Regions from separate parts of the Homo sapiens genome. Here regions 2, 3, 4 and 5 are each linked to region 1. The links come from fine-mapping of genetic effects on gene expression. A gene starts in region 1. Each other region holds a variant in brackets. All regions are shown on one strand. Distances are from middle to middle. Region 1 holds the start of EPS8L2 (EPS8 signaling adaptor L2). Region 2 overlaps PTDSS2 (phosphatidylserine synthase 2). Region 3 holds the start of DRD4 (dopamine receptor D4). Region 4 overlaps EPS8L2 (EPS8 signaling adaptor L2). Region 5 overlaps TSPAN4 (tetraspanin 4).

Evidence for each region. PIP is the estimated chance that this variant, and not a neighbour inherited with it, causes the effect.
Region 2: its variant is fine-mapped to the expression of EPS8L2 in whole blood (TOPMed, PIP 0.97).
Region 3: its variant is fine-mapped to the expression of EPS8L2 in whole blood (TOPMed, PIP above 0.99).
Region 4: its variant is fine-mapped to the expression of EPS8L2 in whole blood (TOPMed, PIP above 0.99).
Region 5: its variant is fine-mapped to the expression of EPS8L2 in whole blood (INTERVAL, PIP 0.90).

The regions. Positions count from the first base shown.
Region 1 is chr11:703,458-708,553 of GRCh38, reverse strand. It overlaps EPS8L2 (EPS8 signaling adaptor L2), which reads right to left and starts at 2,323. Exons shown (of 21, transcript NM_022772.4): 1 at 2,266-2,323. It overlaps TMEM80 (transmembrane protein 80), which reads right to left. Exons shown (of 5, transcript NM_001042463.3): 5 at 4,425-5,096. It also overlaps a transcript of DEAF1 not described here. RefSeq lists enhancers at 1-700, 701-1,627, 3,483-4,410 and a silencer at 2,377-2,506.
Region 2 is chr11:468,758-473,853 of GRCh38, reverse strand. The region is part of intron 2 of PTDSS2 (phosphatidylserine synthase 2); the gene reads right to left. Among named protein-coding and RNA genes, the nearest start is that of PTDSS2, 21 kb to the right of the region's middle. RefSeq lists enhancers at 1,474-1,996, 1,997-2,520. The variant C/T (reference allele first, on the strand shown) is at 2,613.
Region 3 is chr11:635,932-641,027 of GRCh38, reverse strand. It overlaps DRD4 (dopamine receptor D4), which reads right to left and starts at 3,759. Exons shown (of 4, transcript NM_000797.4): 1 at 3,439-3,759; 2 at 1,483-1,595; 3 at 722-1,380; 4 at 322-627. The coding sequence starts at 3,723. The coding sequence ends at 425. RefSeq lists enhancers at 1-223, 224-835, 1,201-1,734, 1,735-2,269, 2,270-2,803 and 4 more. The variant TG/G (reference allele first, on the strand shown) is at 1,944.
Region 4 is chr11:724,428-729,523 of GRCh38, reverse strand. It overlaps EPS8L2 (EPS8 signaling adaptor L2), which reads right to left. Exons shown (of 21, transcript NM_022772.4): 16 at 4,695-4,800; 17 at 3,677-3,796; 18 at 3,354-3,426; 19 at 3,040-3,220; 20 at 2,773-2,905; 21 at 1,797-2,623. The coding sequence ends at 2,543. Among named protein-coding and RNA genes, the nearest start is that of TALDO1, 20 kb to the left of the region's middle. RefSeq lists silencers at 1,108-1,197, 2,799-2,988, 3,469-3,768 and an enhancer at 1,432-2,337. The variant T/C (reference allele first, on the strand shown) is at 2,128.
Region 5 is chr11:850,536-855,631 of GRCh38, reverse strand. All of the region lies in intron 3 of TSPAN4 (tetraspanin 4), which reads right to left. Among named protein-coding and RNA genes, the nearest start is that of TSPAN4, 10 kb to the right of the region's middle. RefSeq lists an enhancer at 612-1,125. The variant G/T (reference allele first, on the strand shown) is at 2,766.

The DNA of each region.
Region 1 (5,096 bases):
GGCTGAGACTGGGAGCCAGTCCAGTGGCCCCAACACACAGTATCACTGCCCCTCCAACGAGGTAGGGTGGCTATGGGGCAGGTGCCTCTGGCCTCCCCCAGGGGCAGAATCCTCAGAGCCTGTCTCTGGGCTCCTAGTGCTGACCTCTTCCCCGAGCATTTTGGGGAAACTAAGGCCCAGCCGCCAGGGCAGACAGGTGGGTCTGATTTGGGCTGGACCCTAGGGGCTTCCCGGGGGGATGGACAGAGCCTGATGGCCCTGAACCAGGCTGACTTGTCCCAAGGGGACTATGCCCTGTGGGGACCTGGCTGTTCTGTGGCTCTGTGATCAGCTCCCCACAGGTCCACACCATCTGCCTCCTGCCAGGGCTGCAGGGCTGTCCCCTGTGGCTTCAGAGTTTGGGTCTGCCACGGTGGGGGTCACCAGCCACTGCTGTTGGTATGGAGGGTCAAGGGAGTGGCTCGGAGCACCCGGGACTTTCTGGTTTGACCAGGTCTGGCCTAGTGGGAGGGTCTGGGAGGCCCGGGGGCACTGCCGCTGACATGAGGGGCTGGGTGCACCAGGGGGTATGGCCACTTCCTCCATCCATCTATCCGTGGAGAATGTCTGGAATGTTCACGGGCTCAGTGGCGAGCCTGAGTGTTTGCTTAATGGGATTCCTGGCGGGCTCCACCAAGGGCGCCAGGCACGTGTGTCCAGGCACACACCTGGGCGAGACACCAACGCACCCTTGCAGACTCAGGCCTGGGGGCACGCAAACATGGAGGGCTGTGACACGCGACCCCCCTGGGGAAGGCCAGGTTCCTGGCCTTCGGTTGCCTGCAGGGCATCGGGGACCTCAGGCCCAGGCAGGGCCGGGCAGCAGTGGGGTGGGTCCAGGTGTGGTGTCTGGGTCTGAAGCACATGGGTATGGGGCTGCCTCCTGCCCTGTGGGAGCCCCGCCCCCCTGGGGAGGCTTCTTTGGCCCACTGGTGGTGGGGACGAAGCCCTGGAGGCCCAGGCTGCACTTTGTACTGTGGTCATTTTCCCGGTGTGAAGTGAGGCAGAGCGGGGTGCCCGGTCAGTCGGGCTGTGGAGGGGAGGAGGTCCCAGCAGGGCAGGAGGGTAGAGGGACGGGCTCCAAGTTCAAGTTCCAGCTCCACATGCTGAGTGACCTTGGGGAGGGGTCAGCTGAGTCACAGGGGCTCCAGGCTGCCCTCATAGGCGCTGGGTGGGGCCCTGGAATGGGGAGGCCCCTCAGGCCCTGGCCCTGTCCTTGTTTGGAAGCTATGGCTTGAGGGAGGAAGGGATAAGCTGGGGAAGCTGAGGGTGGGAAAGGAGACCGAGGCAGGCGGAGAAGGCCCGGTGGGAGAGCTATGCCAACAAGGCCTGGGTGCTAAGCAGGCCCGGGAGAGGCTGGGACCCAGGAGGGGCCGCGAGGGGAGGAGGGGCCGCGAGGGGAGGGGCCGCCGCCAGCTGGGCCTGCCTCCCAGCACAGCCGACCCAGGACTGAGCACGGGGTGGGTGGGGGCAGAGGTCCGGGCATGCCCGGCCCTGCCTCCCCCTCCCCTGCCACCAGGGACACCCCGCAGCAAGGGGCAACGCCAGGCAGCTGGACGCAGGGACCAGGAATCTAGGATGGCTGAAGTTCGCGTGCCCACAGGCTCCTGCCAGCCCACCCTCCTGCCTCTCCTGGCAGGGCCTCTGCAGCCCCTGTCCCAGCCTCCCCTCCTCCCTGAAACTCCCACCCCCAACCCTGACCTGGAGACTGACCCAGCTGGTGCTTCCCGGCCACTGGTTTCCTTCTGGGCTCCGACACCCAGGAAGTGCCTCCTGGCTCCGGCCCACAGGGAGTGGGTGTGCAGTGCTACCTCCACGGTCAGGCCCTCGGGAGGGTCCTGCTGCTCACAGAACCGGGAGAAGCCTCCCTACCACCAGCGCTCTCCGGACGCAGGGATTGCCCCCACCAAGCCCCAGAGCTGGGAGTGGGCAGGACGGGGCAGGTGAGTCACCCATCGCTGGCTTAAAAATATCCTTGCTCGCCGGCCGCCGCCCAGGACCGACGGGGGCAGGCCGGGCTGCAGCAGGACCCGTCCAGGAGAGGTGGGGACTCGACCAGGCCCCCAGCCCCTTGCCCCGCGCCCTCGGCCCGGCCGCCCTCCAAGTGCCCCGCGCCCTGCGACGCCGCGTTCGTCCCGGTGTCCTGAACCAGAAGCCCCGCGTCCCATCGCCACCGGGTAAACTGAGGCCCGGGCGGGCGCGCTCCCCCGTGTCCGCAGCGCTCACCTGCCTCCGGCGCCCCGCGCTCGGCCTGTCCCCTCGGCGCTCGCCGGTGCGTCCGTCTGTTCGCGCCTCGGCCGGGGCGCCAGGTCTCCCGCGGGCGGGTGGGACGCTCGGCGGGGCCGGGCCGGGGCGGGGCCGGGAGAGGAGGAACCTGAGCGACAGGTTGCGGAGTCACCCGAGAGCGGGCGGGCGCGCGGGGGAGGAGGGCGTGGGATGGAGGCGCCCCCGCCGGCCTCGGACCCAGCTCCGCCCCGCCCCCTGCCCCGCCTGGGCTCCAGCCCCAGCCCTCTGCGTCCTCCCCAACACCCGCCTGGTGTGCCCCTCCGCGGGCCTAGCCCCTAGAGCTGGGGCGCTGGGGACAGGCGGGGCGCAGGGCCGCCTCCGCGGGATGAGCAGGGCGAGGCCTCGAGCTCTTCCTTGGGCAGGGCCTAGCTGCGCCCCAGCAGGCCGGGGGACGGGGGAACGCTGCCAATGGGACTTCGGGGGCAGCGCTGGCGCATTGCTGGGGAGGGCTCCAGCCCTGGGGAGGTCAGAGCCTCCGCCGGGCCAGGTGCACCCCTCAGGTGCCCCAGGCATGGGGCAGAGTCACTTCCCTTACCGGGCCCACCGCAGGCCCAGGGGCAGAGGCTTCGGTGAGTGGGTGGGTGTCAGGCAGGACCCAGCCATGCCCACCCCAGGCCTGGAGCCCTGAGTTCACAGTGCAGCTGCTCCTCCAGGCCCCCCTTTCTGCCCAGCCTGGGCACTGAGGGATGGGGTGTCAGGGGAGGTGGGGACACCTCAGGCCCTCTCAGGATGCCTCTCTCCTTGCACTGCCCCGTGGTCAGGCCCAGGCCCCACCTCTGCCCACCACAGTGGGACTGTCTGGTTCCGTCCTCATCTGCCCGGCTTCCAGGATGGCCCTTCTCCCCAGCTGCTGTGACCGCTCAGAACAGGGCCAGGGTGCAGTGGACACAGCGGGTAGCACCGGCTGCCACAGCAGTCAACTGGACGAGGACGAGGTGAAGGGGCACAGGGCGCCCCAGGCCCATGCAGGGACCCAAGGCTCCGGCTGCCGGTCCTGGGTAGGGGTGGGAATGAGCGTGGCCAAGAGTCTGGGTCCCCGGGCTATGGTCCCAGAGGGGCAGGGCTAGCGTGTTTACCCTGGGCTGGCCGGAGCACTTCCTGGGGAGGCGCCATAGGTGAGCTCGGTGGAGGGCTGGCAGGAAGTGGCCCTCCTCCTTCGGGCCCAGTGCCTGCCCCTGAGCCCAGGCAAGACCTGGCTTCCTGGTTTACAGCCTTTGCCGTTTGATCTCCAGGAACCTGCCGTGATCCTGCTCCATGCATGAGCTTGCCCTGACCCAGAGCTCAGGGTCACACACGCCAACCCCTCGGTGCACCCGTGCCCTCACCCTTCCTGGAGGCAGAGCTGGGAGTGGCCAAGTGGGAAACAGGCGCTGGAGAGGACAGCTGGGGGGTGGGGTCCCTCTCCACTCCTAAACGGGTGCCTGTCAACACGATTTTGAGTGCGGAGCCTGCCCTCAGGAGACAGTCCAGGCTGGCCTCTCGGGCCCCATCCACTCCGGGTCACCTGGAGCCATGGCGTTCCCTGTGGAACAGGTGACCACTGCCTTTGTGTGCTCGCTGAGACTGGAGGTATCAGGATCCATTAACCATGAAGGCAACAGGTCTCCAGCTTCAGGGAGGGGGTCCTTCCCTGGTCTGCATGGTTTGTGGGCTGGGTCCTCCAGATGGCAGGTGTGCCCAGCTGGTCTTCTGCGAGTGCAGGCGCTGGTGAGGGAGGTGGCCCGAGGCGCTCAGGCGCTGGTGTGTGAAGTGGGTCCTCAGGGCTGTCCTGCAGCTCACCGTGGCCACTGGGGGCCACAGACAGGTCAAAGGAAGTCGGCCCAGGACAACTGGGTGCTCCCACCGCTTCCACGAAGACAGGCAGGAAAGACTGTCCAGGTGCCACAGCCACAGCCACCCCAGCCGAGGGAGCCCCAGTGGAGGCCCAGGACAGTCCCGCAGCCTCCTGCCCTCAGGAGTCCACCGAGCGGAAGGCGCCCGGCAGCCAGGGCCCGAGGGCGAGGCCAGCCAGGAACTGACCAGCTGGCAAGTGGGGTGTGCTCTCTTGCAGGGCAGGAGAACTGGAGATGGGGTGGGGGAGGTGGCCATAATTAGGAGAATTCAGGGAGGCATACACATCTCTTTATTTACAAAATGCGGTGAAGAGAAAATATCTAGATATTTGGGTGTAATTATTCCAAACATAGAAAACACACAATAGAATCAAGTGAAGGGAAAGCTACTGTAACAGCTTAGATACTTTTTAAGGAGAACTGATAGTAAATCTGGGAATGGGAAAAAAACACAGAGCTAGAATTTGTTTAGCACTCCGTGCAAAAGGCAAAAGCTGATAAAACTGGAGTGGACGGAGGCTCCGAATGTGGCCCTCCGCTGCTCTCTCTCCTGCAGTCTCATCCCCGGCCTTAGCCCTGACCTCTCCTCCGAAGCCCCTGAAGGGAGAAGTGTGGCTAAGATGGAAATTGCTAGGCAGCAGAGCTGTTGGCTTGTTTGCATTTATTGCTTTAGGAACCCAGAGTCCACTCTTGCACCGGGCCTGCCTGCCTGTGAGGCAGAGCTGGGGTTGCTCAGAGCACAAGGCCTACCCCATCCTGCGTCTCCAGCCCGACTTGGAAACACAGGTGGGGCCTGGCCACGGAGTAAACTGGGATCTCAGAACACAAATTAGGACCATTGGGGAACTAGGGGGTGATGGGGGATGCAGTGAGATGAGGCCTCTGTTCTGAAGGGCTCTGTCCTCCCTCTCGGCCCTGGGGGCCCATGGGGGTCTGTGG
Region 2 (5,096 bases), 230 kb after region 1:
TCTCCCAGGAGGGAGGTGGGAGGCTGCAGGGACCCCCAGACACCCATTGTGGAACAGCCCCTGATGCTGGGGCGGGAGGAAGGGGCCTCGGGCAGAGCTGGGCGACTCCGCCGCGGGGAAAGCCCAGCTACCTCCACCACCCTGGGCCGGACATTCGCCCTCACATTTGCCGCCTCCGCGGCAGGGAAGGCCCAGCTACCTCCACCACCCTGGGCTGGACATTCGCGCTCACATTTGCCTCCTCCGCGGCAGGGAAGGCCCAGCTACCTCCACCACCCTGCACCCAACATTCGCCCTCACATTTGCAGCCCGCCCAGTGGCCAGGAGAAGGTCCCTGTGCTTGGGCTGCTGGTGGTTCCCAGTGTCACATCAGGAAGACACTGGCTCTACACAGAGGCCACCGAATGCCCCGCATGTGACCATCAGTGATCACAAAGCCCACGTAGGAGGGAAGGCGTCAGGAGCTACTGCCTCCCTGCTCCAACGCGGCAGGACCCCCAGGAAGTGTCTCTAGAGAGCTCCTGTGTCTTTTTGGTGTCAACTCATCCAAAACCAACGGGACTCCTGTGATTCATAAGATGGAAGCGTGAGAGCTGTAACTGCAACCAAAGATGCAGGTTCACGGGAAGGAGGATGCGAGGGACCGCTCTGGGCAGGGGCAAGGTGCTCCCTCCTCGGCAAAGCTCCTTGGGGCCGGCCTCAGCCAGAGTCCCAGTGGGTTTCGGTGAGCAGCAGCTTAGGCCGGCGGATGTGCAGACAGCCCTGGTCACAGGCACACTGCTCACATCCGCTCGCTGCACCCAAGGTGTGGACCCGCTCTGCGGACGCGCTCTGTGCTCTGCAGACGCTCGGATGCACCCATCCTCTCCAGTCGTGCTCAGCTCAGGGTCTGAGATCCACTGGCCGCTGCACCACCCAGTCCCTCCCACGGCTCGGCAGTGCCGTGCCGACAGTCACACCTTGGCGTGTTCGCACGCTGGGCGGCCTCTGGGTTTTGGCTGCCGTGAGGGAAGCTGCACACACACACGCACGTTCGTGTGGCCGCAAGAATAGACGGGGCCACAGAGACACGCTATCTATTTTTTAAGACAGCGCTGTTAAAAAATACCCAGTAACAACTTCAGTCTCAGAAATTCCCCTCTCTGCCTGCAGGAGTGCCTGGCCTCAAAGTCCTGAGTAGACAGAGGCAGGTGAGGCCAAGCACCGCCCGAGGCTTGCAGGATGGAGGAGGGCACAAGGTCGCTGGCCCCTGGTGCAGCCGGGACAAGGGTCTACTGCTTCTGGGCAGGTGCTGCTCTCCACCCAGAGCCCTGAGGGTCTCACCCTCGGCAGGACATTCATGGCCCACCCAGGCGAAACCTGAGTTTCTGACCCGGTCTCCACCCAGGCCCCAGCTCCCACACTACCGCTGTCAGCCTCCAGGGACAGAGGCAGAGATGCCCTCGCTGCTGGGTTCAGCAAGGTGGGGCCCGCGTCCCTGTCACCGGTACCCCTCCCGAGGTCTCTCAGTGCTGAGGGGTGGGAGGTGTAAAAAGTACCTTTCAGGGCCCCCTGGAGCCAGACATAGGCCCCACCTCAGCTGTGCCTCCAAGGGGCGTGGGGAGGGTCATAACATTCAGTGGAAAGACAGTAAAACGTCCCCCTACCCTCCCCAGAAAAGATAAAAATGAAAAGAGGAACATGGGCACTGGCCAAGGGAAGCTGCTCCCGGTGCAGGCGCACGTCACCCCAGGCCGCCATCCGCGTCACCCCAGGCTACCATCTGTGTCACCCCAGGCCGCCATCCGCGTTACCCCAGGCCACCATCCGCCCGACAGGCGCGCATCACCCCAGGCCGCCATCCGCGTCACCCCAGGCCGCCATCCGCGTCACCCCAGGCCGCCATCTGCATCACCCCAGGCCGCCATCCACGTCACCCCAGGCCACCATCTGCCCGACAGGTGCGCGTCACCCCAGGCCGCCATCCACCAGACAGGTGCGCGTCACCCCAGGCCACCATCCGCGTCACCCCAGGCCACCATCCGCGTCACCCCAGGCCGCCATCCACGTCACCCCAGGCCACCATCTGCGTCACCCCAGGCCGCCATCCGCGTCACCCCAGGCCACCATCTGCGTCACCCCAGGCCGCCATCCACGTCACCCCAGGCCACCATCCGCCCGACAGGCGCGCGTCACCCCAGGCCGCCATCCACCAGACAGGTGCGTGTCACCCCAGGCCGCCCTCCGCCTGACAGGCGCGTGTCATCCCAGGCCACCATCCGTGTCACCCCAGGCCGCCCTCCGCCCGACAGGCGTGCGTCACCCCAGGCCGGTGCTCCCTGAATCAGCTTGTGGCAGCCCCCACACGGCATGCTGCCCAGAGGCCAGCTCAGACCGGGTCACACAGGACTCTAACCTGGCCACACATCACATAATGTTTATGACAACTTTATAAGGCTAATTTGTTCATAAGAATTACTTGCCGGGCACAGTGGTTCACACCTGTAATCTTAGCACTTTGGGAGGCTGAGGTAGGTGGATCATTAAAGGTCAGGAGTTCGAGACCAGCCTGGCCGACATGAAACTCCTGTCTCTACTAAAAATATAAGAAATTAGCCAGGTGTGGTGGCAGA[C/T]GCCTGTAATCCCAGCTACTCGGGAGGCTGAAGTAGGAGAATCACTTGAATCTGGGAGGTAGAGGTTGCAGTGAGCTGAGATCGCGCCACTGCACTCCAGCCTGGGTGACAGCAAGACTCAGTCTCAAAAAAAAAAAAAAAAAAGAATTACTTAAGTACTTGAGAAGGTGTGTCCCGTTGGGTAAGAATGAGGGAAGTGCTTTAAAAGGAAAACAAATATATTGCATTTTAAAAATAAATTTTTAATTTTAGAATGGTTTTAGATTTACAGAATTATTGTAAAAATAGTAAAAGCTCCCATATCTCACAGGCCCAGTTTTCCCATTAACATCTCACCATTAATAAGCCGGTGCTGGCTGGGTGCGGTGGCTCACGCCTGTAATCCCAGCACTTTGGGAGGCTGAGGCAGGCGGATCACAAGGTCAGGAGTTCGAGACCAGCCTGACCAACATGGTGAAACCCCATCTCTACTAAAAATACACAAATTAGCCAGATGTGGTGGCAGGCACCTGTAATCCCAGCTACTCGGGAGGCTGAGGCAGGAGAATCACTTGAACCCGAGAGGCGGAGGTTGCAGTGAGCCGAGATCACGCCACTACACTCCAGCCTGGGTGACACAGTGATACTCTGTCTCAAAAAATAAAATAAAATAAACATAAAAAATAAAAAATAAATAAGCCAGTGCTGCCACACAGCTGCTGAGGCCTACACTTCCTTCGCTCTCCCCTGATGTCCTTCCCCCTGCCCCGCCCCCAACAATCTCTTCCTGGAAGCCACATGGCATCTACTCGTTCTGTCTCTTCAGGCTCCCCGAGGCTGGGACGGTTTCTCAGACTCTCCTTGTCTCTGATGACCTGGATGGTTTGGAGGAGGCCTGGTCAGGAATTCTGTGGAATGTTCCTTAGTGAGATGGTCGACTATGCCTCTGCATGGCCGGGCTGGGGTCGTCGGGGTTGGGAGGATGGGGCAGCAGCCTCCCCGTCGGCCACGCCATGAACATGACCAGTGCATGCTGACCTGACCACTGGGCTTGGGGGTGTCTGCGGGCACCTCGGCTGCAGCGTCCTCCTCCCACTGCCCTCTCCGTGCTGCACGCCCAGGAAGGAGGTCAGGTCACCACGCGCAGCGCACAGCGGTGCCGGGAGCTCACGCCAGCTCCTGGAATGGGGGGATCTACCTCATTTACTGAAAACCTTCTGCAGGGAAGGTTGGTCTTGTTCCCTCTGTTTATTTACTCAATCACTTATATCACTATGGGCTCGTGGATGTTTATTTTCTACTCTGGGTTATATTCTAATACTACTTTATTATTTTGTTGCTCTTTGGCCACTGGGAGGCTCTTTCACTGGGACGCAATCCCGTGACTGTGGGGTTTTGTTTACAGAGCTCCTCACTTTCTGGAACTGCCAGGATCAGCTGATCCTGGGCATTTCCTGCCCCGGTGCTGGAATCAGCCATTTCTCCTCAGAGCCCTGGCCCCGTGGACTGGAGGGCACTAGGAACCAGGATCTGGGCCTGGGTGTGCTCACTGCTGCAAGCATAGCTGGTTCTAGGCCCCCTCAGCTTGTACAGCAACAAGATCTGTGTGTATCCATTAACCACTGCGCACACACTGTTTAACCATCTTTGTCTCTTCTGGGCTAAACGTGCAATGGTAATCCACCATCACAGCGGCCACTCCAACCTCGTCCCTCTGATTACCCGGAGACTCCCCTCCTCCTCCCTCCGATTACCCAGAGACTCCCCTCCTCCTCCCTCCGATTACCCAGAGACTGCCCTCCTCCTCCCTCCGATTACCCAGAGACTGCCCTCCTCCTCCGAGTACCCAGAGACTCCCCCGGAGACTCCCCTCCTCCTCCCTCCGATTACCCAGAGACTCCCCTCCTCCTCCCTCCGATTACCCAGAGACTGCCCTCCTCCTCCCTCCGATTACCCAGAGACTCCCCTCCTCCTCCCTCCGATTACCCAGAGACTGCCCTCCTCCTCCTTCCGATTACCCAGAGACTCCTCTCCTCCTCCTTCCGATTACCCAGAGACTCCCCTCCTCCTCCCTCTGATTACCCAGAGACTGCCCTCCTCCTCCTTCCAATTACCCAGAGACTCCCCTCCTCCTCCTTCCGATTACCCAGAGACTCCCCTCCTCCTCCCTCCGATTACCCAGAGACTCCCCTCCTCCTCCCTCTGATTACCCAGAGACTGCCCTCCTCCTCCTTCCGATTACCCAGAGACTCCCCTCCTCCTCCTTCCGATTACCCAGAGACTCCCCTCCTCCTCCCTCCGATTACCCAGAGACTCCCCTCTTTCTCCGATTACCCAGAGACTCCCCTCCTCCCTCCGATTACCCAGAGACTCCCCTCCTTCTCCAATTATTCAGAGACTCCCCTCCATCTCAGAGACTCCCCTCCTCCGATTACCCAGACTCCCCTCCTCCGATTACCCAGAGACTCCCCTCCTCCAATTACCCAGAGACTCCCCTCCTCCTCC
Region 3 (5,096 bases), 68 kb after region 1:
GCTGACAGCCCCCCACCCCGCCTCTCCCCATTTGTTTCTTCCCATCGGAACTGGGCTTCCCCAGGAGACACCTTGCCCTGCTGGGTGCTGCTTCCTCTCCCCTGCAGAGAGGGGAAGCTGGGCCCCAGCGCTGCGGAACTGAGTGGCTCTCGGGGGCCCCTTCCCCCCTCACCCTGAGCAGGCGGCCGGCTTGGTGGGGTCTGCTCTGTGGGCTTCCTTGGCGGGGAGAAAGAGGTTAACTGGCTGGGGGGCCTGGGGCCACTGAGGCAGAAACCCCTCTTCCCCACTCCCCATCAGCCCCCAGGAGCCTTCACAGCTGAGTTTGGGAAGGAATTTGTTTAATTAACGTACAAAAGCGCCCTCCCCATCTCCTTGGTCCCTGAGGCCTGGCCATCAGGCCGGGGGGCGTCCGGGGGTGCCCGGCTCAGCAGCAGGCACGCAGGGCCTTGCGGAAGACGTTGCGGAACTCGGCGTTGAAGACAGTGTAGATGACGGGGTTGAGGGCGCTGTTGACGTAGCCCAGCCAGGTGACGGCGCTGACCAGCCGCGGGGGCACGGAGCAGGCAGGACACAGCGCCTGCGTGATGTGCACCACGAAGAAGGGCGTCCAGCACAGCAGGAAGGCCCCTGGGGGCGCCGAGAGCCGCGTTAGCGCCCCCCGCCCAGCCGGCCTCGTACCCCCCCCCTCCTCTCCTCCCCGCCCCTCAGGACAGGAACCCACCGACCACCACCGGCAGGACCCTCATGGCCTTGCGCTCCCGGCCGGTGATCTTGGCACGCCGCCTCCTGCGGGTCTGCGGTGGAGTCTGGGGTGGGAGCGCGGCGGCTCTGACGGCGTCGGGGGGAGCACAGTTGGAGCCGCAGGGGTCCGGGGGGAGGCCGGGCGCGGGGGGCGCACAGTCGGGGCCGCAGGGGTCCTGGGGGAGGCTGGGCGCGGCGGGCGCACAGTCGGGGCCGCAGGGACCCCGGGGAAGGCCGGGCGCGGGGGGCGCACAGTCGGGGCCGCAGGGGTCCTGGGGGAGGCGGGGCGCGGGTGGCGTGGGGGAAGGCGGGCCAGGGCCGCTGGGTCGGCGGGGCGCGCGGCCGTGCAGCTTGGCGCGACGTGCCACCTCCCAGCGCTGCAGGCCGCGGAACGTGGCCCAGTAGAGCAGCAGCATGAGCGGGCAGGGTAGGAAGAAGGAGCACACGGACGAGTAGACCACGTAGTCGCGGTCCTCCAGGCGGCACACGGCGGGGTCGCGGCCGCGCACGTCGTTGAGGCCGCACAGTACGGGCGCCGCCACCGCCGCGGACAGCAGCCACGTGGCGCCGATGAGCAGCAGCTGCCGGCGGCTCCCACCCTGCCGGTTGTAGCGCAGCGGCACGGCCACGGCCACGAACCTGCGGGGAGCGCCGAGGGGGCGCCGGACAGCGCACAGGCCGCGGTGAGGGCGGCGGGCGGGGCGCGGGGGCGCCGGGGCGCGGGCGGGGAGGGCGGCGCACCTGTCCACGCTGATGGCGCACAGGTTGAAGATGGAGGCGGTGCACAGCATGACGTCCATGGCCATGAGGGCGTCGCACAGGCGGGGGCTCAGCAGCCACGCGCCACCCTGGACCTGCGCGGCGACACCACAGGCCCTGAGGTTTCCCAGCCACCGCGGGCCCTTGTGACCCGCCCCCACTCTTATGGGTAGTTCCAGGGCTGAATACGGAGAAGGGGGCCCGGCTGTGAGCCAGAGGCCAGAGGACCGGGCAGGGAAACACCCCTTCCCCACGCAGATCTCCCTTTGTTTTGAGTTAGGGTCTCGCTGTGTCACCGCGGCTGGAGTGCTGTGGCTCCATCATGGCTCACTGTAGCCTGGAATTCCTGAGCTCAAGCGATCCTCCCACCTCAGTCTCCAGAGTAGCTGGGATTACAGCCGCGCGCCACCACCCCCGGCTGATTTGTTTTTCTTTTTGTTTTT[TG/G]AGACGGAGTTTCGCTCTTGTTGCCCAGGCTGGAGTGCAGTGGTGAGATCTCAACTCACTGCAACCTCCGCCTCCCAGGTTTAAGCGATTCTGCCGCCTCAGCTCCCCCGAATAGCTGGGACAACAGCCGCAGCCACCACCCCCGGCTGATATTTTAAAATTTTTTGTAGAGACCAGGCCTGGTATGTTTCCCAGGCTGGTCTCAAACTATCCTCCTGCCTTTGCCTCCCAAAGTCCTGGGATTACAGGCGTGAATCACGGCTTCTGGCCTTGGTCTCCCTTTTGTTACAAACATGAGAACGGCCTGGGGAATTCCCTGGGGGCGGGCCTGATATCATCGGGCTCAAAGGGAGCCCCTCCCCAGCCTGGGGTAGGCAGGGTCCCCGCTGGGCCTAGAAGCGAAGCTGGCTGCTCTGTTGGCTAAGTTCTCTGTGGGAGACTCGGGCACGTTAATTCATTTCTGTTTCTTCATCTGTAAGACAAGGGTGATGATAGTATCCACATCATAATTGTCTTGAAGATAAATTATAATTAAAAATATGAAGACCGTGCCCAGTGCCCAGCGTAGGACTCCACGTGGAGTGACTCTCTCCAAGGGCAAAGGAGCAGGCAGCCCCTCTAATCCTTCCCGCCGATTTGGGGAGATTAGGAGCTTAAACGTCGTCACTGTGACGTCTGCGGCTCGAAAGGAGCACAGGTCACGCGTGTCCCGTGCTGCTGGTCTCTGCCCCAGCCGCCTGGATTCACTGTGTCCATCAAGGGGAAACCTCGAGTCCCCCTCCCCCACAGTCGGGGACACCGCGTCTCCAGCTCAGCCCTAAGCTGCTTTTCTCTGGCCGCAGAGGGGCTGGCACCAAGGCCGACCCACTCGAGGGCCAGACCTGGTGTGGAGTGTGGGCTCCATCCCCCAATTCCCCCTCAGGCTTCCCCCCAGGGTTCTCAGCAGGGGCCTGGTCCCCACACACCCTCCCCTCCCCTGGGTTTTGTCCAGCCCAGGTCTCCCCTGCGAGCTGTGAGCCTCCTTCTGGGGGTGTGCCAGCATCTGCACTAGGTGTGTGTGGTGGGCAGTGGCTGTGGCAGTGTGTGTGTGTGTGTGTCCCACGGCAGCCAGGGGGCTGAGCCTGCATCTGCCTGTCTGTCCAGCTGGCTGCCCTGGAGGTGAAATCCAGCTACGGAGGGGACTGGGCTTGACAAAGTCGCCTGTTTCCGGGGTCCCTGGATAGAAGGACGGGCATCTCCTGGATAACAGACGCCAAGACAGACGGGGAAGGAGAAGAGGAACGAGGGTCGGGGGACAGACAGCGCAGCGGGTGGAAGGTCGCGAGGTGGCGGCGGTGGGTGTATCGCCGAGGGACAAGGCGCAGCGCCCCTGCCGCCGCCCCAGCTGGAAGCTCCGCACCAGAAAGGGGCCGGGTCGCGCCGGGTCCTCCGTAGGGACAGGGACGGGGAACCGAGGAGCAGGTGAGGATGCTCGTGCGGCCGGACGCGGCTCACCTCGGAGTAGACGAAGAGCGGCAGCACCAGGAGAGCGAGGAGGAGGTCGGCGGCCGCCAGGCTCACGATGAAGGAGTTGGTGGGCGTCTGCAGGGCGCGCTCGGTGGCCACGCTCACGCACACGAGCGAGTTCCCCGCGAGCACCGCGCCGATGAGCAGCACGCCCCCCACCAGCGCCGCCGCGCCCTGCCCAGCCAGCCCCGCAGATGCCCCCGCAGATGCCCCCGCGGCCGGCCCGCGCCCAGCCAGCAGCCCGTCCGCGTCCGCGGTGCTGCGGTTCCCCATGGCGCGCCCGGGCGGGCGCTGAGCACCGCGGACAACGCCGGGTCGCAAGCCGGGGAGTCCCTCCCCTCGGGCACGCCCCGGCCGGACCCTGGTCCCGCCCCCGACCCGCCCCGGCTCAGGGGGGCCCCCGCGGCGCTCCACCGTGAGCCCAGTATTTGCTCATCTTGGAATTTTGCGCAGGGAGAGACGGGCACGTGGACGAATGCGGCGGCCCAAAGAGACGGGAATGAAGCGAGGTGGTGGCCACGGGCAGGCCAGCATCGCCCGGCGCCGCGCGGGGTCCGCGACCCGAGAAACCGACAAGGATGGAGGGGCGGCCAGACCAGGCCCTGAAGCGCGCGGGCATCGACGCCAGCGCCATCCTACCCGGCCCGTGCGTGCGTCCCGGCCCTCGGGCGCTCACCCTAGTCCACCTGGTATCTGGCAAAACCTCCCTCCCAGGCCCGTTCCGCCAGACGCAGAAAGACCTGAGCTCAGGCTCTGCCCGCCTCCCCCGCGGACTCGCCTCGACCTCGTGCGCACCCTCCACGCCCGCTCCCCCTGCCCCCGACTCCGCGCCCGACTCAACCGCCGACGCCTAGCTCATCCCGCCGCCCCCCCCCCGCAGCCTCTGGCCCTCAGCCCCCGCGACCACCACGGTCAGCCGCGGCCCCACCCGTTGCACAGTTGATCCTCGCGTGGCCGCCTCCGAAACTGGGCGGACAGCTGAGCGGTCGACCCCGCTCCCTCCTCCATTCCCTCCGGCCCAAGACCGTGAGCTAGGTAGGCGCCCCTCTGACCCTGGGCAGGGGGTCCCGGGACCGGACAGTAGGTTCGGCTCGCGAGGAGGCCAGGAGAAAGACACGACAGGCCGGGGTAGGTTCCAAACGTGCAGAAGAGAAAGTGCTTGCAAAGCGCAGCAGAGAATTCTATGGACTCTTCACCAAAGAGGGGTGACCTGTGACCTGAGAGGTATTTTCTGTAGTCTGTCACTAAGGGGCCTAGAAGACACTAAAAGGGGGCACCACTCTGTGGGACCCCAGGCGGCGCACATCCTGATGCTCTAGTCTGTTTCTGGGAGGCCTGGAGTGGAGGGGCTGTGCCAGGAATTGAGGCCCCTGACCTCGAAGGTCTGGAGGACACGGGCTAGACGGAGGCGCTGACAGGGCGTGCGTTAAAGGGAGAAATGAGGACTCTGAGAAGGAGCAGGCACCGTGAGCCTCACAGGACAAGGTCACGGGGCTGCGGGGGAAGGGCCTGCACCAGGGACAGGTGTGCACAGGCATCAGGTGCGGCCGCAGCCAGGCTCAGTCCCTCTTGTGCAGATCAGTCTGCTGCCCTTGTGAACCCTTGAGCAAAAGAAGTCACCACAGGAGAGACCACCAGGGACAGGT
Region 4 (5,096 bases), 21 kb before region 1:
GCCGGGGAGGGAGTGAGTGGTTAAGGACACGTTGGAACTAAGAGAGATTGCATGTTAACCCCAGCCCCTGCCCCAAACTCGGGCCTCGAGCAGGTGACCTGGCCCCTCTACGGGTCATTCTTATCCACGCCTGCCTCACGGGGCTGCCACTGGGGCCTCCGGAGGCCGCGGGCAGCACTCAAAACACCACAGGCCCCCAAGAGTGATGCCCTCAGGGCAGGAAGGGGGGCAATCCTCACCCCTGGGGCGGGTGGCCAGAGAGGACACAGAGAGCCAGCCCACCCGATGCCAGGTGACCCTGTGCCCATCACCAGGCCGGTGAGGTCGGTGGTCCCATCTGCTCTTGAGGGGGGTCTCAGGAGGTGGCAGGAAGCCCCTTGGAAGAAACGGGAGGTAATTTCTGGAAGCCCAGAGGTCCGAGCAGGCAGCTGGGGCCAGGGTGCCTCGGACTCAGGGCTCCTGGGGTGGGAGCCTGCTTGGGGCCTAGGGCTGGGATCTGGGGGCTGGAGTCTGGGGGTCTGGCTTCCTGGGGCTCCTCAGCTGTGCAGGTGGCAGAGTGGGGCACAGCAGGTAGGGGGCTCTAAATGGGGCTGGGGGAGGTGGACAGGGAGAAGGCTGAAGAAGCAGGTGTAGATCTGGGGCCCTCAGAAGCTGAGCAGCCCAGCCTGGAGGCTGCATATGAAGCCCAGACCATCCTGGTGGAGGAAGGGTCCTGTTGCTGGGAGTGGTTGGGGAGTGGGCAGCCTCCCTCACTTCCAAGGACTGGCATCCTGGGGCCCACAGAGGCCCCTTTTGGAGCAGATATAGCCCCGGTGCCTATCCCCGTCCTGAGGTGGTGGCTCAGCAGGCAGCGGGAGCTGCAGGTTGCAGGGAGGAGGGCCGGTGCCCCCATCCCTCCCCTTTTCCTCTTGGACCTGTCTCTCTCACTGCAGGGTCCATCTGACAGGGTGGGGGGGCCTCTTCCGGGGGCCTGGAGGAGTGGTGGTGGCCATCAAGCCCGGGTCGTGGCTCAGAGGGCACCAGACAATCCCTGCTGCCCCGACCAGACACTGTGGTTAAGACTTGGCCTAGTGTGGCCTGAGCTGTGAGTCAGGGCTTCTGTGGCCTGGTGTCCAGGCCTGGCTGGGTGGTGGACCAGGCAAGGGACACGCCCCCCCCAGCCCAGCCCCACAGTCGCCCCTGCCCAGGCCAAGACCCCAGGACTGTGTCCCCGGATGCTCCGCACCAGGGTTGGGTTCACGGCTGCTATGGGGACACATGGTTGTGGGTTGCCCCCTGCCACCAATCCAGGGCGAGGGCACCCCTGGCGGCCACTCACGGCAGCACATGGAGCGGCCGGCAGAGGGCACCAAAGGCCCCTCCAAGGGTGCGGCTCAGGTGGACCGCCCATCTGGCGGTCAGGTGCCCCTCCCACGCAGGGTGCTGAGTGTGGCCTGCTCCCCCTTCTTGGGAGCCTCCGTCAGCCTGGGCTAAGATCTCCAAATCCAGTTTCAGCCTTGCCCTCTGACTCATGGCCCTCCTGGGGCCTGCCGACCGTCTGGCCGAGCTGGCTCTGTCCCCACCGCTCCCACTAGGGTTGTGCCCAGCGAAAGCCGGGCTTGGATGACACGCTTTGGGCCTTCTGGTCGCTGGGCCTGGGAGGGCCACAGGAAGAGAAGTGGGCAGGGTCCCCTCTGGGCTCAGGGGCAGAGCAGCCTGGCGGACGGCCAGCCCTCTGCCCGGCACTGCTTAGAAAAGGTGCAGTTTCCGGGGGCTCCAGGACCCACTCCGACTCCCAGAGAACTGAGACACACGGCTCCTGGGAGACTTAACTGGTTTAATTGCTTAGCCCTGGTGCCTCAGCCACCTCTCATCTGTAGGGTGAGACTCAAGTCCAGGCACCAAGACACACCAGCACCCCCAACACCATGCGGGGATCATTGGCCTGAAACTTGGCCAGAGAAAGCTCCAGTCCTGGGCCTGTAAGAGTGGGCGCTGGGAGTGTCTGAAGCCGGCACGGTGTCCCCTGCGTTGTCGGCCCTTGCAGGTGAAGTGTGTGTCGTTCCCCCACTTTCCCCCGAATGGCACCCACGGCCTCCTGCTGGAGCCCCTCCCGGGCCCCCCTCAGGGAGCAGAACTCTGCGTGTG[T/C]GCGAGGTTCAGCCTGGCCAGCCTGGAGCTCCAGCTCACCCTGGGGTGTGGATGGATGTAGAAGTGGGTGGGGATGGGGGAGCATCACAGGGGCCAGGACCCCCCAGGTGCACAGGGGAGGCCAGAGAAAGAGGCCCCAGCCCCAGGGAGTTCTGTGGCCTCAAGAGAAGGTGGACAAGGGGCTGGCACCACCAAGCAGCAGGTTTGGCTGAGATTAGTCTTGGTGTGGGCTGAGGCCTTGGGTACTGTTTGGCCTAAGGATGGGCGTTGTGCCTCCAGACAGGGGCAGGGACCTCTAGCCAGCACCACACCCCCTCCGTGTCCTTGATACAAAATACATACACATATAAAAATAATACTCCATGCATTGTGGGTGGGCTTCCCCTCCGCAGGCCCCAGCCCAAGGCAGCTGGGCCTAGCTGTCCTCCCCCCTCCTCTGATTCATGGAATGAAACTTGTTCATGAGTTCTTCCAGCTCCGACCCACTTTGCTGCTTCTAGGGAGGAGAAATGGGGGCATCCTCAGCCGGGGGTCCCACGTGTCTGGGTGCCGGCCTCCCCCTTGCTCTGCGACCCCAGGAACGGGCGGGGGAGAGGAGGGCGCAGGGGCAGGAGGGGCGTGGCGCCGGAGCGCAGGCGGGCTCACCTCCAGGAAGGCCTTCTGCATGGTGAGCTGGCTGTACACGCGGACGCCCTCCTCGCCGCACACTTTCTTCAGCTCCTCCTTGTTGAGGGAGAAGAGCTGCGGCCCGGTCAGGATGCCCAGGTTCTCCACGATCCTGGGGGCGGGCAGTTGGGCGTCAGGGCCGCGCTGTGAGCGAGGCTGCCTGGCGCCCGCCCCGACAGCTGCGCACCTTCGGCCGCACCTCCCACCCCTCGCCCGGGCCCCAGCTCATCCCCCGCCCCCGCTCACCGCGGGCTGAAGGCCTTGGCTTCCAGCCAGGCGCGGACCTCGTCCGGACCCGACTCGTAGGTGAGCGGCTGGCTCACGGGCTGGCTGCGCTCCACGCGGAAGTGCCTCTGTGGCTGCGCCCTGATGTTGCTGATTTTCCGGATGAGCTCGTCGTTGACCTCGTCCATGTGCTGCATGAGCTCTGAGGGGGCGCGCGACTCAGGCCCGCCGCTGCCTTGCCCCTGCCCCCGCCCCCGGCCCAGGGACCCCCCCCACACTTCCTCCCCCAGGTGGCCCTGGGCCCGGGACCCCCGCCTCGAAGCAGCAGCTCTCACCGTCTTTGTTCCCCGGGAAGCTTGGGGGTAGCTTGTGGGTCGGGCTGGCGGGGCCCCAGTACTTCTGACCGGCCTGCGGGGGCGGGGGGCGATTAGGCTCCCCACGCCCCGCCCCCGCCTCCCAGCACCTGCCCGGGACCTCCCCACCCCGCCAATCCCCCTACAGCCCCGGCCTGCGGACCAGCCCTTTCCTTCTGCCCAGGGAGCCCTGCACCTGCCCCAGTCTCTCCAGCCGCGGGGCTGGCCTTGGGGCGGGGCTAGGCGCAGGCGGGGCTGCTCCAGGAAGCTGGGGGCTGCGACCCCAGGGACCCCCGCGGGCTCACCTGCTCGAACGGGGCGCCGGCGTCCTCCGGTCGCGCCTCGCCTAGGATGTTGCAGGGCACGTACCCCGCCTGGCCGCTGCGGCTGCGCAGCTTCCACCACTGCCGGCCGTCCTCCAGCACCTGCGGGGCGCGCCGTCAGCCCCTCCCCACACCCAGGCTCTGCGGGGCTGGGACCACCCGCTGGCGCCGCTTTACAGAGGTCGGGAGCGCCCTAGGGTCTCCCGGAGCCCCGCTTCGCTCCATTCTCTCCGCACCCCTGTTTCCACCCCTCCATCCCTCGCTGGGCTGCTCCTCCCCCACCCTGCCTCAAGGAGTCTGGGGGACCCTTTTTTTCTCGGAGACAGGGTCTCACTCTGCCGCCCAGGCTGGAATGCAGTGGTGCAATCACTGCCCACTGCAGCCTCGACCTCCTGGGTTCAGGCGATCCCCCCACCTCAGCCTCCAGAGTAGCTGGGACCACAGGCACACACCACCACATCCAGATAATTTTTATGTTTTTTGTAGAGATGGGGTTTTGAGGTGTTGCCCAGGCTTGTCTCGAACTCGTGGGCTAAAGGGATCCTCCCGCCTTGGCCTCCCAGTGCTGCGGTTACAGGCGTGAGCCGCCGAGCCAGGCTGTGGATGTGGCCCACTCCCCCCTAGCCTGCTCCACTTTCTGTCCCCCAGTGGGTGGCCTGGATTCCGGCTGGCAGATGCGGCCAGTGCAGATGTGGGGGCTCCTGGGTGGGTGTGAATGACAGGCCCCCGCTGAGTCCACGTGGTGCAGATGCTCCCCCCAGCCTGGCACAGGGGTCTCTGCATGCCTTTGGGGAGCCCCAAGATGGGAAGGCCCCTCCAACAGGCTGGGGATCCTGATCAGAGTCCAAGGGCGGGGACCCTGGAGAAAGGGGCCAGCAGCTGTGCCCCGTCCTGGCATCACCCAGCCTGGCCCTAGACCGCTCCCCACCTCCCCTGGTAGCCCCTCCCTTGAAGCCCTGCCCTGTTTCCCCCTCTTGGACCCCGTCCTCCAGCCCCTCACCTCTAGGACCTCATCCTTGAGCACCGATAGCTCGTTGGCATTTCGGGCTGTGAAGTCATACAGGATCTTGACGTACTTGGCCATGGCTGGTGTTGGCTGGTAGCCCCTGTGAGGAACAGGAGGGGCTGAGGCCCAGTCTGGTGGGGGTCTCCTCTGAGACCTGGGCAGTGGCTGGGGGGCAGCAGCTTCCCAGGTGCACGACTGGCTGCCTCTTTTCTGTTCTGGAGGTCACCGTGGAGAGAGGCTGCAGGCAGCGTCAGCCCGGAATGGAAACTGTGACAGCCCCAGAGCTTTGGGGCCCTGCGTGGAGGCGGGGCAGGCAGGAGGTGGGCGTGGCGCAGGGGCCTGTGGTACAGCAAGGCTGGCCCATCCCAGGCCACCTCAGGGGTCTCCAGTCCGGCA
Region 5 (5,096 bases), 150 kb before region 1:
TGACCCTAGGAGCTCTCCAAGGGACCCCAGGGCCCAGAGATGAGGAGACCAGCCCCACCCAGTGACCAAGGCCCACCCTGAGGCCAGTGTCCAAAGCAGGGAGAGCAGAACAGCCCTCGTCAGTGGGCACCTGCCCAGGGTGCCAATGCTGGCTCCTGCAGGGTGGGTAGGAGTTTGCTGGAGGCACAGGAATCCAGGAGGAGACTGTGACCCAGCGGGGCTGTGGGTGCAGCAGGGCTGCGTGGGAACAGCAAGGAGGTGGCCTGCCGTCATCAGGCCAGGACCACGGCTCACATCGCACAAGCGCGGCTGGAAGCCCAGGTCCCCCACGCTCACTCCCGTCCCCCTGCGTGGGCCTCCTGACTTCTCTGCCTGCCCCCTGCAGCCCTGGGCTGCCAATGCCACATCTCTGCCCCCAGAGACAGCCCTCTCCACACAGAGGCCCGGCCTGCCTGCCCTGCCGCCAGCTGGGACCTGGAACCTGCAGAGGCCCCGTGGAGCCAGGCCTGTGTCACTGGGTGGACAAGTCTGACCTACCCCCAACAGCACCAGAGCTGCCTGGAGCCCACAGCTGGGTAGGCAGTGTCCCCCGACCGACCGCTGCTGCTCCCCACCCACAGGGAGCCACACACTCCCCAAGGCTCAGACACGCTGTGGTTGCCAGCGTCAGGGCCTTTGTTCAGAAACGGATTGTTTCCGAACAATTGATCCAAAGGCTGGCCTGGGATGTTAAACTCCTCAAAGAGAGGCCTGGGAGCTGAAGGCAGAGCCCTCTGCCACCCTTGGGGACACTGTGCTGCCCAGAGGCCAGCGCCAGGCAGGCCGGCCATGCCATCTGCCAGACATCGTCTCAGCTCATCCCAGGGGAGGGGAAGCCAAGGCTGGCCCCCACTGCACCCCCTCCACCAGGCTCACTGCTGATCTTAGAGCAGAGGCCTCAAGCGCAGCCAGGACTTTCCTTTGGAACAACAGAGAGTGGGCAGTGAGGCTGAGGGGCCCCCACACCTCCAGGGTTGACAGCCCAGGCAGCGCAGAGCCAGGACAGCCCCCGTGCCCCTCCAGGCTGGGGCCCTGGACCACCTGGCTCCGAGACTCACACTGCCCACCTGGGGGGTCTCCCCGGGGATCAGCGCAGGTGGTGGGGAACTGAGAGGCCTCCCACATTTCCATTCAACCCCCGAGCCAGGCCAGTATATGGGGACCTCACCCTCTACCGCCCCACATGGTGCAGATGGGAAAATGAGGCCTCAAGGAGGGCAGAACCTGCCCGGCGTCCCGCACTGGCAGGTGGGACTCCAACCCCCACCCGGTCCCCCAGCCAGGCCCTAACCATACAGTGCGGAGACGGCCGGAGCTTCCACCAAGCTCCTGGTGCTGCGGGTGAAGAGAAAGGGGAGCAGCACCCACCCTGGGGAGCAGCGTCTGGAAGGAGCCGAGGCCAGGAGGGCGGGAGGACAGCCCTTCGTGGTGGCACCTTGCTAAATAGCTCGGCTGCCTCCATCCCTGACAGGCGGGAAGAGCAGGCCCCGTCCTCTCCCCTCCGCCCCGGGACCTCCACTTCCATTAGGGGAAGAGTGTCGCTGGCAGCAGCTGAGCTGACCAGGCAGCACAGAGGCCTGAAGGTGGGGGTCCCAGGGCAGCAGAGCCCCCCACGCCCTCACCATTGCTAACCTGTGTCTGTGTCGGCACCTGCCTTGGACCAGGACACCTCGCTCAGGCTCACGGGCCCTGCACCCAGCCTCCCCCGGAATGAGGCTCCCAGGAGACACCCCGGCCCCACCACAGGCAGCCTGCTTCCCACTCCCCAACCTCTGCAGGGAGGGCTCAAAGGAAGGCTCAGTGGCTGTGCCCCAGCGGAGCTGCCATCACCGGGTGAGGGCCTCTATTTGCTGAAGGCAGGTAGCATGTCCCCAGATGTCCATGGGGTTAGGAGTTGGCACCAGTGCTCTGAACTCTGAAGGCCCCACCGGGTCCCCCACCACCAGGCCAGGACACATCCTACCTCCCCACCCTGGCTGCCCCAGGAACCCTCCCCACTCCACCCAAAGCTGGAGGCTCTGAGCACAGACTCTTGCCAGCAGCCCCACCCTCCCAGACCCCAGCAAAGATGCCTGCCTGGGAAATCCGAACCAACGCTGTAAAGAAATACGTCAATCAGCCTTCTGGAGCGAGCCCCTCCCTTCCCCTCCCAGGTAGGCCCCCAGGCTGCCCCAGGCCGTCAGTGACCAGGGGCCCTAGCCTGACCATGGGTGTGGAGGGGGGCTCAGGCCTGGACCCAAAGAGACCTTGGAAGCCAGGAGTACTGTGAGGGCCTTGGAGGGTCTGCATTTGGAAGAAGGGGGGCTTTGAGGAGAACATGGAGGCAAAGGTGGGAGAGAGGGGTGCCAGGCTGGGGTTAAGGGCACAGGAGAGCAAAGCTAAGGGGCAGCCAGGCAAGCTGGGGGCAGAGGGAAGCTGCACCCTGACCACCGCACACGAGCCAGGCATGGGACCCCACTCCCAGCCCCCCAACCCCTCCCAGTGCCCTGGCCGCACCTGTACCACTTACAGGGCTCAGCCCCTGCCCCCACACCCACAGCCACACCCAGGACGGGCACAGCCCCCCAGTCACACACAACTTTCCTCACCCCACCCCGGCTCCCACCACTGCCCACGGCTCTGGTCACTGGCTGCCCACTGGGGCTCCCCCATGCCCTCCCCACAGGCCCAGCAGGACTCCGGCAGCGGGGGGTCAGGACAGACACACGCGGGGATCTTGAGGTCCC[G/T]CCGGGGGGACGTCCCTCCCACCACCTTAACCCCTGAACTTCGCCCCTGAGAAGACGGAGGAGGAGGAGGAGGAGGCCAGGTTGTATCCCCTGGTCTCCCAACGAGTAGGAAATGGAGTGGGCGGCAAAAGCCCCGACAACAGGGGGCTGGCACCCCCAAAAGGAAAGGAGCCCTGGGGAAGGGGAGCGCTAGGCCTGACTCCTGAAATAGCCTCACGCCAGGAGGAGAGGGCTTAGCTCACAGTGACTCAGGGCACAGCAGGCGTGGACATCAGCCCGGGACAGACTCTCCTGGCAAAACCCCCACTCATTCTTATTTCCCCTGCCCCGCCCCCACCCTTAGACCCCCACTGGGCACCAGCCCAGGGTTGGGGGGGGCCAAGGCTGGTGTATGAAGCCAGCGGGGCTCCAGTTTGCTGGACTGGCGGGAAGGTGGTGATTGATTAATAAAAAATAATTGGGGCCGCCTGTAATCCCAGCACTTTGGGAGGTCGAGGCAGGCGGATCACGAGGTCAGGAGTTCGAGACCAACCTGACCAACATGGTGAAACCCTGTCTCTACTAAAAATACAAAAATTAGACAGGCGTGGTGATGCGCGCCTGTAATCCCAGCAATTCGGGAAGCTGAGGCATGAGAATCGCTTGAACCCCAGAGATGGAAGGTTGCAGTGAGCCAAGATCACGCCACTGCACTCCAGGCGACAGAGCAAGACTCTATCTCAAAAAACAAAGATAAAAAAGAGAGAATTGCATTTTCCAGCCCAGAATAGGGTCCCAAGGGGGTTCCTTGTGTGTTCTTTCCCAGGTTGAGGATGGGGGAGTGTGTCTGCCATGCGGTAGGAATGGAGGCTTCTCTGGGGTTCACAGAGCAAAGAGAGGTCCACCTGGGGGTCCTCCATGAGGGCGGGCTGCTCTCAGAGCAGAGAGACCCCCCCTGGGAAAGGACCCTCTTCTTTCTCCCTGAAGGCAGGTGTCCAGGCCACGGAGGACAGGAGGAGGGTGGAGAGGAGAGAGGGCTTCCCCTCCCAGGACCTGCCTGCCTGCCTGCCGGGCCCCCACACCCACTGCCCTTCAGTCATTCTGCCCCGTCCCCCCGTCACAGAAACACTCTGGTCACTCAGCCACCTGCAGCCCACCCCCCACACCCACCAGCTCCAGACCACACCCACACCTCCCACCACCCCTACCTCCAAGGCGCCCCTCAGGCCTGGGCCTCACCCCTCCAGAGCCTCTTGCAGAAAACAAACCCTTGGGTGACCCCTTCTGGAGGTGGATGTCTGGGCCAAGAGCCTCCTTGGGTCACACTCAGCAGGCAACCCAGGCTGGCTGTCCCTCCCAGGGACCCCCCTGCCTCCACCCCAAGCTGGCTAGAGAAGGAGCCTGGGCTCAGGAGGGGAGAGGTGGGAAGGCAGACCCAGGCTTCTGGGCACTTGGCCCAGCTGGACCTTATGCAGATGGACAGCCTCCTTCTGAAGCCCAGAGCCTAGGCAGGAGCTGAGGCCACACCCCCGACTCCCAGCTGCAGGAGCTGGTTCAGGAATTAAGAATAGGGCACAGAATGACCTTGGTATCACTTCACCTCCCCCAGCCCAGCCAGCAAAGCCCCAGGCCCGGTCCAGGTCATCCTCGGCCACCCCCAACTGCAGCTGCCCTCCACAGGAGCCAGGGACAGGACAGGGTCGCGGCTCCATGAGGCTTGCTCCAACCTGGCCAGGTGGGAATCCTGCCCCACCTCTTGCTGACATGGGGCTGGGGTGGGGTGGAACCCTGTCCGCCCTCTACCTCAGCTCTGCTCCATCCAGCACACAGGGCCCCCCCGGACACCACTGCAGGTCTGAGCACACCTGACCCCACCTCCGCAAAAGTTAGGGAAGCCTCTGCTGCCGGAGGCGCGGGAAAGCCAGTGTCTCCCGCGAACACTGATGGCCCACGGCCCTGCTCAGTGTCCAGGATTCCCTTCCGCAGCGCCTCCCGGCGACTGGGGGACCTTGGCGGCAGCCGGCTCAAACCCTCGGAAGTGAGTCCCTGGGCCCGACAGGTCGCCTGCCTGGAGGGGCGGGGCCGAGGCAAGGATAACGGCTGCACCGAGGAGGGAGCGGGCGCAGAGGAGGCACCGGGGCCCCGCGCAAAACTGGCCACGACCCGGACTCGAACCCCGACCCTAGGAGAGGCGCAGTGCCCGGGTGGCCCTGTCCGGCGCGCACGTGTGCAACGTGTCCCGTCTCATCAAGTGAGGAGAGGAGAGGAGAGGAGAGGGGACCAGGGCGTGGGGCAGCCGCTCTGAGTGCAGGGGGCGGACCCCGCGATGGTGCAAACCTTCCCCACCCGCCC